2 linked regions of the Homo sapiens genome follow. The protein of the gene in region 2 purifies or fractionates together with the protein of the main gene of each other region. This does not show direct contact. Each region holds a gene or a part of one and is shown on either strand. Other genes may lie near its edges.

The links.
Region 1: the proteins of RNASE9 (region 2) and CLYBL purify together in Homo sapiens (affinity purification with mass spectrometry; one large-scale study listed by BioGRID and IntAct). This does not show direct contact.

What each region holds. Positions count from the first base shown.
Region 1 is NC_000013.11:99,888,802-99,893,070, reverse strand, and holds the end of CLYBL (citramalyl-CoA lyase, mitochondrial isoform 1 precursor), read right to left. Parts: intron 1,754-4,269; coding exon 1,658-1,753; 3' UTR 1,634-1,657; exon of another isoform or gene 948-1,633; intron 649-947; exon of another isoform or gene 629-648; 3' UTR 501-628; downstream 1-500. UniProt on the Homo sapiens protein: Mitochondrial citramalyl-CoA lyase indirectly involved in the vitamin B12 metabolism. Converts citramalyl-CoA into acetyl-CoA and pyruvate in the C5-dicarboxylate catabolism pathway.
Region 2 is NC_000014.9:20,557,421-20,563,196, forward strand, and holds the start of RNASE9 (inactive ribonuclease-like protein 9), read right to left. Parts: upstream 3,628-5,776; 5' UTR 3,454-3,627; intron 2,952-3,453; exon of another isoform or gene 2,917-2,951; intron 2,214-2,916; 5' UTR 2,162-2,213; intron 1,231-2,161; exon of another isoform or gene 1,196-1,230; coding exon of another isoform or gene 1,195-1,195; exon of another isoform or gene 1,121-1,194; coding exon of another isoform or gene 1,120-1,120; intron 1-1,119. UniProt on the Homo sapiens protein: Does not exhibit any ribonuclease activity.

The DNA.
Region 1 (4,269 bases), on a different chromosome or scaffold from region 2:
ATCTCCATTTAGGAGCTATCTGTCTCCTGGATCCTGTGTTTGAGAAATGAGTTGGTGTCTTCACAGAATGAGGATCCCCAGAGCCATCTTGCCCGGTGCTGGCTCCCCGCATGTCTGTCCCTCTCTGGGTGGGGGTCGCCTGGTGGCGGTGGGACTCTGCGGCCGCGCTTTTGTGTGATGGTGCCTCTCCTGGTGTCTAACCTCAGCTCCTCACCTCTCGGGCTTCCTGTGGGAATTGAGAGAAGTGGGGAAAAGGGGAGGCCTGGTTGGGGCTCATGCTAGGGGCCGCAGAGGAAATAATCCAAAAGGGCGTAGGAGGAGGTGAAAAATGAAAGTAAAAAACAACTGTTTTCTATTTACAAATTTAAATAAACAGAACAGCCTTCCCCGCGGTGTTTGTCTAAGAGTAGCAGCGTTGCTGCTGTGTAGGTCATGAAAAGGTTGGTGTAGAGTTTAAAACTTCCCATTCTGTTAATTTCTTAAGGAACAGTCGTCCAGAGTCTCGGCACAAAAGCTCATGATTTAATGAGGAACAGAAACAAAATCTCTGATTGTTGGTGTTTCAAACTTCATTGGCGTCCTCTGGCAAGCACAAGTTGATCCCTCTGCAGCTTCAATACCCTTTAGCCTTCAATATAAGAGTACATGCTGAATAGGGAACAATGGCTGGTTGTTATGTTTATTTACCCTTACTACAAGCTGGGTTAACCTCTTCAAAACAGCTTTACTAAGCCCGTTAACCACACCACCCATCTGACCTGCAGCCGCATCTCTAATGTGATGCAAATCTCGCAGGGGCCACATGCACCAGCTCGGGTGCATTGTGTCTTCTGAGACGCTACAAGTTTATGACTGAGGGAGTCCTGTCCCAGCCATACATTTCCAGGGGGAAATAGCCTCAATGGCAAACAGTTAAACGGGAAAATAAAGGGGGAGAATGGATGGTCTTGTGTTTCTGCACATTTATTTTTTAATTGCCGGTAATGGTTGACTCACAGCATTCACCCAGGATGACAGCTTTCGTGTTCATCGTCTAGCGGTTCAAGGAGATGGATGTTTCGTTTTAGGGGTGGAGGTTAATAGTAACCAGTTTCGAAAGTTTATTTTCAGAAAGTGTCTTTTTAAGCCAATATAATACTTAGTATTCTTTTTTGATGCCATCTCTGTTGTTTTATCAGATTACTAGTGAAATAGAGATGACCCCTTAATGTTGCTACTATGTTTTAAAGGCCTGGCTTTTCTTAAAATTATTTGTGGTGTCAGCTGTATAAATGAACAAGCAGGAAACATTTACTAACATGAGAAGGGTGGAGGGAATATGTCTATTTGGGAAAGATCCATTTCATTAAAGACCTACCTTCGCCTCACAGCCCATCTTTCCCCAGGATCTTACCTCCCTGTGAAATCATAAGCCCATATTCGTAATACACTAAAAATGATAAAATCATAAGCTTGGATCCAAAGGGAAAAGCGTTCATTTTTTTAGGGGAATAACTGGCCAGTGAGACAACAACAACAAAATTGTGATTAACATGAACTGTAAATGGAGTCAGGTCCCAATCTGGCATCCTAACAAGTTGCTTTGAGTATTGTGGTTTGTCTTTAAGAACCCCACTGTATATGTTCAGCCCACCTGATGACAGCTTCATTTAACAGATCATTTTTCCTTGATGGAGGTGGCAAGCGTAACAGTGTTCTGGGCCTGCTTCAGTAATGGCATGTCGATCATACTCCCTTGGAAAGTAAAGGCCCCCTGGAAAACAGAGAATACAAACTTCCTGAAAGAATACTCGAAATTATAGGTTTCCTTTCTGTGCACACTTGTGCAACAAGAACATTTTAGATTCCACCTGAATTATACTGACTTTCCCGCCCAACTTTTGAGAAAGCCAAAGTAAATTACAGAGGAAACACTTCTTTTTTCCCCCTAAAGAGGGGAAAAAAATAAAAATCTTCAGCATTTTAATGGAGAGGAGAAACACATTGGACACAAGACAGCAAACTGTTCAGTTAACTCTTGAAATCAAGCAGAAAACAGCTGTGGAAGGAAAATCTAAATACTTCCCTATATATTTTTGAAATATTATGTAGAACTTTAAAAGCAAGAATATATTCTGGCAACTGATTATTGTTTTAAAAAATTGTACCATCAGGCTAATGGCAAAATCTTACCTCCTTGCTGTAACATAATTGAGAGGTAACATGATAAGGTTATGAGAAAATGCAAGGTAGGATTGTACAGGGTACAAAGAGATGAGTCTGTTGGTAAACCCATACAGAAGACGATTAGAGTGACCAGGGACGGCCAGGCGCAGTGGCTCACACCTGTAATCCCAGCACTTTGGGAGGCCGGGGCGGGCGGATCACCTGAAGTCAGGAGTTCAAGACCAGCCTGGCCAACACGGTGAAACCCTGTCTCTAATAAAAATACAAAAAAATTAGCTGGGCATAGTGGTGCACGCCTGTACTCCCAGCTACTCGGGAGGCTGAGGCAGAAGAATTGCTTGAACCCAGGAGGTGGAGGTTGCAGTGAGCCAAGGTCACACCACTGCACTCCAGCATGAGTGACAGAGCGGGACTCCATCTCAAAAAAGAAAGAAATACCAGGGACATGAGCTGTAACAAAGGAATCATAGATCTGTTGAATGTTAAGATGGGAAGGCATCTCTGAAATCTCTTGGAATAGTCCCATTTTACAGACTCATTTTTTAAAAAACTTCTACCATACTTATATAGACTGTGTCAAGTAACCTAAGCCCTGTTTTAGATGAGGAAACTGAGGCTCAGAGTAGTAAAAGAAGGAAAAAAAAAGAAGTGATCTTCCAAGGTCATGTGACTAGGGAAAGCCAGAGCTGGGGCTGATGCTTGGGTCTCAGAGCTTCAAGCCTTCATCAGAGATCCCCACATTAAGAAGACAAGGTAGCTTCTTTAAGTGCATCAGCAAAAGATAGATTAAACGGACAGAAAGCAGCATGCTCAGAACCCAAAGTTAATGTCTGGTTATTTGTGTTCTTTTCATCACTTCCTTTTGCTGCTTACGATGATATCCCTTCATCCTAATCCACCCTGCTTCGACCTGTTGGCAAGGATGCTGGTGTGACTGGGTTGCAGGGGTCCTTCGAGATCTGGGGGTGGCTGGGGCAATCCTAATGCACATTGATGATGGTCCATTTGCATCTATTGTAGCCCATTTCTGGATTTCACAAGTACCAATTCCCAACAGTCAATGCTGATGTCACTCAGGGCTGCCGGGACAGGAGTGCTGGGCTCTCATGATGAGGGCTGAGAGGTAGTAACTTACGGTTATACATAGGATGGAGGTAAAGAAAAATGGGGGGAATCCTTAGCAATGACTTTTGGGATTTATCTTTTGATTGAGAGAGATTCTAAGCCTACTAGGATTAGAATTTTTACCAGCAGTGGCCAACCTTTTCAGCCTTAGAAATGATGACTCTTACTCACATGAACACCTGTGTGGCCTAAACCTAAATTCCTGTACTGTAAGTCACTTCCCAGCCCTCTTGTTTTTACTGTTTTTACCCCTAGATTGTCCTTTCCATAATTTCATTCAGCCTCGAGCTAATTTTGGTCACCTCTGTGACCAGGAGGAATTTTCCTAATTTGGTTGGAAGTTCCGAGGTGGTCCTGTAGGTTGGCGTTACGTGGAAATCCGGGCCTGGGTCACATGCTGTTTTACAAGGCAATCGTCTAGTTTTCTTATTGGAGTAAATGATGAAGACCAAAGGCCTCTTGGTTATCCACCCACCAAGTGGGTTATGGCCCTGTAAAACAGCACATCTGTCCTGCTAGGGTTTAAACAATAGGCTGGGGAGACGAAATTAGCATAGATGCACAGGAAATCAAAACGGTGCGCAGAGAATCCAAACGGTGGCTGTGAGTCTGTGCCATGTTCCCGAACCTGCTTTGGGTTCCATGTGCACATCAAAGATAAAAAACACTTCATGTAGTTTTTCAAGACTGGGAGATTATTTCTTCTATGGTCGCAGGTTTTGCTTGATTTTCTTTAATGAAGCTTAAGGTGCAAAACGAAATGTAGCATTTTTCTTGTTTCCTGCATCACTGCAAATGGAGGATGGTAGTGTTATGAATGAGACTGCCTAGCGTGAATATCCCCAGGCTCTCACATAGCCACCTATAATTTAGGTGGTATTTTTTTAACATGTGGGTCTATAGGTGAGATGAAAAATAGTCTATTGGTCAGGATTTAGAAAAATGCAGTTCATCAAAAAGCTACTTGGATTTTTGAGG
Region 2 (5,776 bases):
ACAGCAGTGGGGAGAAAGGGAGGGTGCAGAGAGGAGGCTCACATGCTCCTTTCGTCTGAAATAAATGCATCTTTTCCCTTTCCAGGAGTTGAGAACTTGCTCTGAAAAGAGCCACCCTCCCCTTTCGAACATTCCACTTTGATAAGAAAAATTCCTTAACCATGTCTTTCTTTCTCCTCTTGCCCTTATTTGACCATAGATGCCCTTGGGGAAGGGGTCAAGGAAGGTTCAAGTTTGAGCAGCTGGGATAAATACATTCTTGAAGTCACCCTAAAGTAAAAACAATGATACACAGTCATAGCTAGCATAATGAGGAGTTAAGTGCCAAGCACTAGACTAAGCACTCTAAGTACATTATCACCATCATCCAAACAACCCTATAATAAATATATTATTTTTAGCATTGTTGTTATTATAACAATGAAAGTTGCAAAAAGAAGTGTAAAGTTATTAACATCTCTCCGTGAAGGGAAGTTGCTTAAAATCTCACATTAGATCCGGCAGACTCCTGGTTCAAGCCTATTTTTGTCTAAATTCCACACATCTGTCCTTAGCTGCTATTCTATGGCCTCTATCAGTCTGGTTTCCCTTCTTAAGGCTAGACTGTATCTCTCTCTCTAGGCTGTCAAACACAATGACTACTGAAATGGCCAGTGCTAAAACGGAATTTGAGCCCCTAGAGTGCTTTGACAAATTGGTCCATGCTCCATGAAGAACCAATTATTTAATTGCAGAAGCAACCTCCTGAGTTTTCTTACCTTACCAGGCTCGTTGTAAAAGAAGTCCTACTTGGTGGCAACCTGAGTGATTCTCTAACAGTCATTACCTGGAGACCTTGATCTATCAGTGATGGAGATGGACAGCCTCCTGTTCTAGGCTGGATACTAAGTTTGTATATATGTGTGTAGAAAGGTTAGAGAATGATGGAATTAAAGAAAGGTGGGTGTTGGGGAACACATCAGAAAGTAGAGACAGGAAAGTTGAGCATAGGAGTGCAGAGAATGGGAAAGAAAAGAAAAAGTTGCCTAAAATGGCGATGTGAGAATGGGCACTCTGGGGCGGCCATGTGCCACACTGTCCCTCCCCTCCCTGCTTTTCCTCCCATCCCTGCTTTCACACTGTCATCAGTGTCCTCCAGGAAGTCTCTTCAAAAGAGTGATCCCATGGTGACAGGTCAGAGAGCTCGGAACATACTCTCACAAGAACGCGGAGCCTCTGCAACATCTTGATCTGGAGAGAACATGGACAGTACACGTGTGAAAAGCAGAATTCAGGCAGCTGTGGCCCTGCCCTTTCTACTTCCCGAGAACATGCACAGGGCCTGTCCAGAATACTCTTTTGTTTTTTAAATCTGCAACCTTCTTAATTCTTGATTTATGAATTCAACTTTTGGTTTCATTCTTCTCAAAATCCTTTCTCATCTCAAAGTATGTGAATTTTTTAAATACTGTATTTTGTTACTTTTATAGATTTTTAGAAATCTTTCACCATCTGGAATTTATTTTAATAGATAGTAAGAAGTTAGTGTGGTCTTTTTTCACATGGTTTATACATAATCTCATCATCAATTATTTGGGAAAAAATCTATTCTCTCATCCCTAATTTTAAAAGCTAGTTTCTATATTTAATAATTCTGTTTCTGAACAGTTTATTGTGTTTTGATATGCCAATAATATACTGTTTTACTTATTATCATTTTACTGTTTTTTTTTTTAAGAGTCATGGTCTCACAGTGTTGCCTCGGCTGACTCAGAACTCCGGGGTTCAAGGAATCCTCCCACGGCCTATCAAGTAGCTGGGCCTACAGGTGCACTACACTGTACCTGTACTTATTATCATTTTATAAAACATTTTGATATCTCATAAAGCAATCTACACTCATTCCTCTTCTTATTCAAATGTTCACTGCGGAGACAAACACAAAGTAGATTATAGGGTGCCCGGGACAGGTGGTAGAAATGGGGATTAACAGTAAATGGAAGAAAGAGAGACAGAGGAGAGAGAGACAGAGAGAAAGAGAGACAGAGAGAGAGAGAGACAGGGAAGCAGTGAGGGAGGGAGGGAGGGAGAACACAGAATAAATAGTGTTGAAACATGATCACTCAGTGTTTCTGAAGTTTTTGCCTGGTAATCTCACACAGCAGAAACGCCTCTGGCCTACCTGTGGAATGCAGGCTTCTTGGTTTTTCCTCAGTTCTCACTAATTGAAATTTCTGTGGATGAATCCAGAAATTTGCATTTTAAACAAATTTAAAGGTGATTCTTAGCTCACTAAAGTTGAACAAGGAATTTCTTAATATGCATTAAAATGAACTTGTGAAAAAGAAAACATCCTAAAACAGTAGGGAAAACGTTTGGCCCTTTCAGCAAATGTTCTTGGAAGAAGAATGGGATGAATTGCTTCCTCCTTTTGGCTATTGTGAATCATGTTGCTATGAACATGGGTGCACAAATACCTGTTCAAGTCCCTGCTTTTCTTCCCTGCTTTTAAACTTGCTTGGAAGGTTTATTGTAACTTAGAATTGCAGACTGAGAAAGGCCTTGGAGGGGTTGTCTATCTAGTCTCTCCTCCTAAAATGCAAGTTCTGAGCCCCAGATCAGAACTCTATATTTAACCACACACATAAGAAGTTTATAGTAAAAAGAAAAGATTGGAATGAGTTATGGGCTTGTAGGTGAACCAATATGTTTCAGAAGGATTATTAAGTGGTATTTTAAATTTTTAAATTTAAGTTTAAGATTAAAATTTAAATTTAAAACTGATTTAAATTAAATTAATTTTTAAAAAGATTTGTTTGAACACCTTATATAATAAAGCATCAATAAATCATGATCATATAATAATTATATAGCCTCAATCACAGAAGGAAAAACTAAATTAAATCTTTTAAATTGGCAATAATTATAATAACTTACAAACTCAATGCTGATAAGAGTGTGATGAGATGTTTCTGCAGAAAGAAATTGTTATAATTTTTTTGAAAAATTTGAGAAATACAATAAAAAGAATAGCTGATACTTTTCTCTAGCATTTCAATAGCTAGAATTCTAAGTTGCAATAATTTATATTGAAAGACAAACAGCAAATTTTACTTAAAAGGGAAAAAAATTGAAATTTTAAAATATAAATATCCAAAAATGTGGGAAAGGGAAAGGTTAAAATGAGTCTGATGTGTTTATAGAAATGACAATACACATTGCAATAATAATTATTATTATAAGAGCTAATATTTATTGAGACAGTATTTTATATTCATAGAATTGTATATTCTTAGAATGGGCTATTTTTCAGAATTTACAAATATATTAATCAATAAAGTTTTAGATCATCTGAGAAACAAGGAGAATAGAAAAAAAGCATTAAAAACTTTAGAGATATGAAATATTTTGTGATATAATATTATAGTACTAGGACTCTCTGGTTGACAGTGAGAAAAATTCCAAACAAATTACCTTAAATGCAAGAGGCACTATGTTGACTCACAGAAGTTGGAAGTCCAAGAGGTAGAGCAGGAGAAAGAAATCAAATTCTTGACTAGACTCTTGTTTTTACTCTCTCCCACTCTACTCTCCTTTGTACACTAACTTTATTCTCATGTAGGGGCCTCTCCATGTAATGACAGAGTCAATCACTGCCCCCTTTGTAGCCTTATATTTAGGATCACAGTAGGAAGTGCCATTCTCTGCCACCTTCACTCAACATGGAAAATAACTTTTCTGATTGGCTGTGCTTCTGTCACATGAATAAATCCAGGGATGTGGGGCACTCTGATTGGCTACCTGAAACACATGTCCTCTTTGAGAAGTAAAGGCAAAACTACACAATTAAAACCCAACAGAATTCCAATTGTCGATAGAAGGGCTGTTCCCTATTACACAAAAAAGGAATGGAGACCAAATCCGAAAGTAATAAACGTGCTTTGCTGTTTAGCTGGGGGAAAATCAAAACACTCCATCTACAGCATGTTCCCAATTAACAGAAATATAGATTACAAGGGAAAGAAAAGAAAAAATGTAATAATAATAAGTTGTTATTTCTGAATGATATATTTCTGGTTAATTTTTTATTCTAATCTTTAAAATTGTCAATTTTACAAATTCAAAAAAATAACAAAATATCATTGAAGAAGTCAAGTTTTAAGATCTGGATTGGCCATGTTCTTAAATATTAAGTGATAATTTTCCAGACTCCCACATGTTTATATCAGTAAACTCATTTTTCATCAGCATCAGGAAAATCTGTGCCTTAGTTTGAGTGGTTGAGAAAAGACAGATTATAAATCTTCAATCCTCAGAATTAGACTAACCTTTGTGAATAAATCCCAGGGTATCTCTTAGTTAAATCCAGTAGAAAAATATAGGTTTTAACCAGCTTTAAATTAAATTTTCACAAACATTTTGAGGCAATATTTATGTCTCAAACCTTTACACCCATGATTGAACTGAGAATGGTATCAGGATGGGAAAATCTGGAGGAAAAATGTTATCCTTGTGAGTAAATAAGAGAATCAACAAGTTCACTGGTATATCACACCTTTGGCCCAATTCAAGACGTTTCCTCCCTTAGGGCCACTGTAAAAACTTGAGTGTCAGAGCTTAAAGCAGCACACAGACTAGACATACAGAAAACAAGTGTTTCTAAATAATTGAAAATCAACCTTCGGAGCATAAATAGAGTAATTTTCATATCTGATTTTACAAAAATGAAGTCAAACCAGGTCTGGGTTCACAGAAATCTCTTCAGAACTGACCGCACGTTTTTGCAAATTTATTTTACTCATATCTTATTTAGCTTTTTAAATGTACAATTCTGCAAAATTTTAAAAGGACTTAGGTAGATATTTACTATTTTTCATGTAATGCTAGTGTGAGTCTAGAAGGTATAGACTGAGATGTGGCCTCTGGTTTTGTTTGATTTCCTAAGTTGGTATTTCTCAGGGATCAGAAATAGCAAGAAAATTGAAATATGGAATATATGAGGATTGGCTCTCTCCTAGATTTGACACTGGAAAAGGAAGTAAACCTGGTGAAACAGTAGGTTCTATATTAAGAAAAAAATAACATACATCCCAGTTTTCATGTCATGCACACACATACACACACAGTCTACAATTTATGATGAACTAGAAATCAAAGTAATATTTTAAAAACAATATTAAGGATATTGAATTAAAATATGCAGAATATTTTTCACAGTTTTTGAGTAAATAAAAGATGTTCTTATTAAAAAAAGACAAAAGCACCATCACAAAGAAAATTACTGAAAGACTTGATTACACACACATAAACTGAATCGCATACTATATACATGAGTGCACAGAAAATTTCACCATAAACAAAAAGCAAAATAAGAATCTCTAAATACACCAAATATAAGATTCAAAGACCATAAACAGCTTAAAAAACACTTTCTAAACATGTGCAGTGTGAATGAGCTTCTCAAACTCAGGTGTAAATAAAATGTTAATTTCTTCTCTAAATCCAACATATCTGTACCAAAACCCCAACTATTGAAGGTGGCAGCAAAATGTAGTTCAGTTATTATTCTAGGTGTCTTCCACCATTCTTACAGAATCAGAGAAACCCAGGAATCTGAAGTTATCCTAGCACAAAAAGTTCAGTACTTTATATGTGAGTGTTGATTGACATTATCAAAGTTTCTCTTTCTGTTATAAATGGCCTTAATATTGAGCAGAGATTTTCATCTGCATTTCAGGTATCTAAGAATTTAATACTAATGCTATTAACTTCCACTTGAGCCATTAAGGCCCAAAGA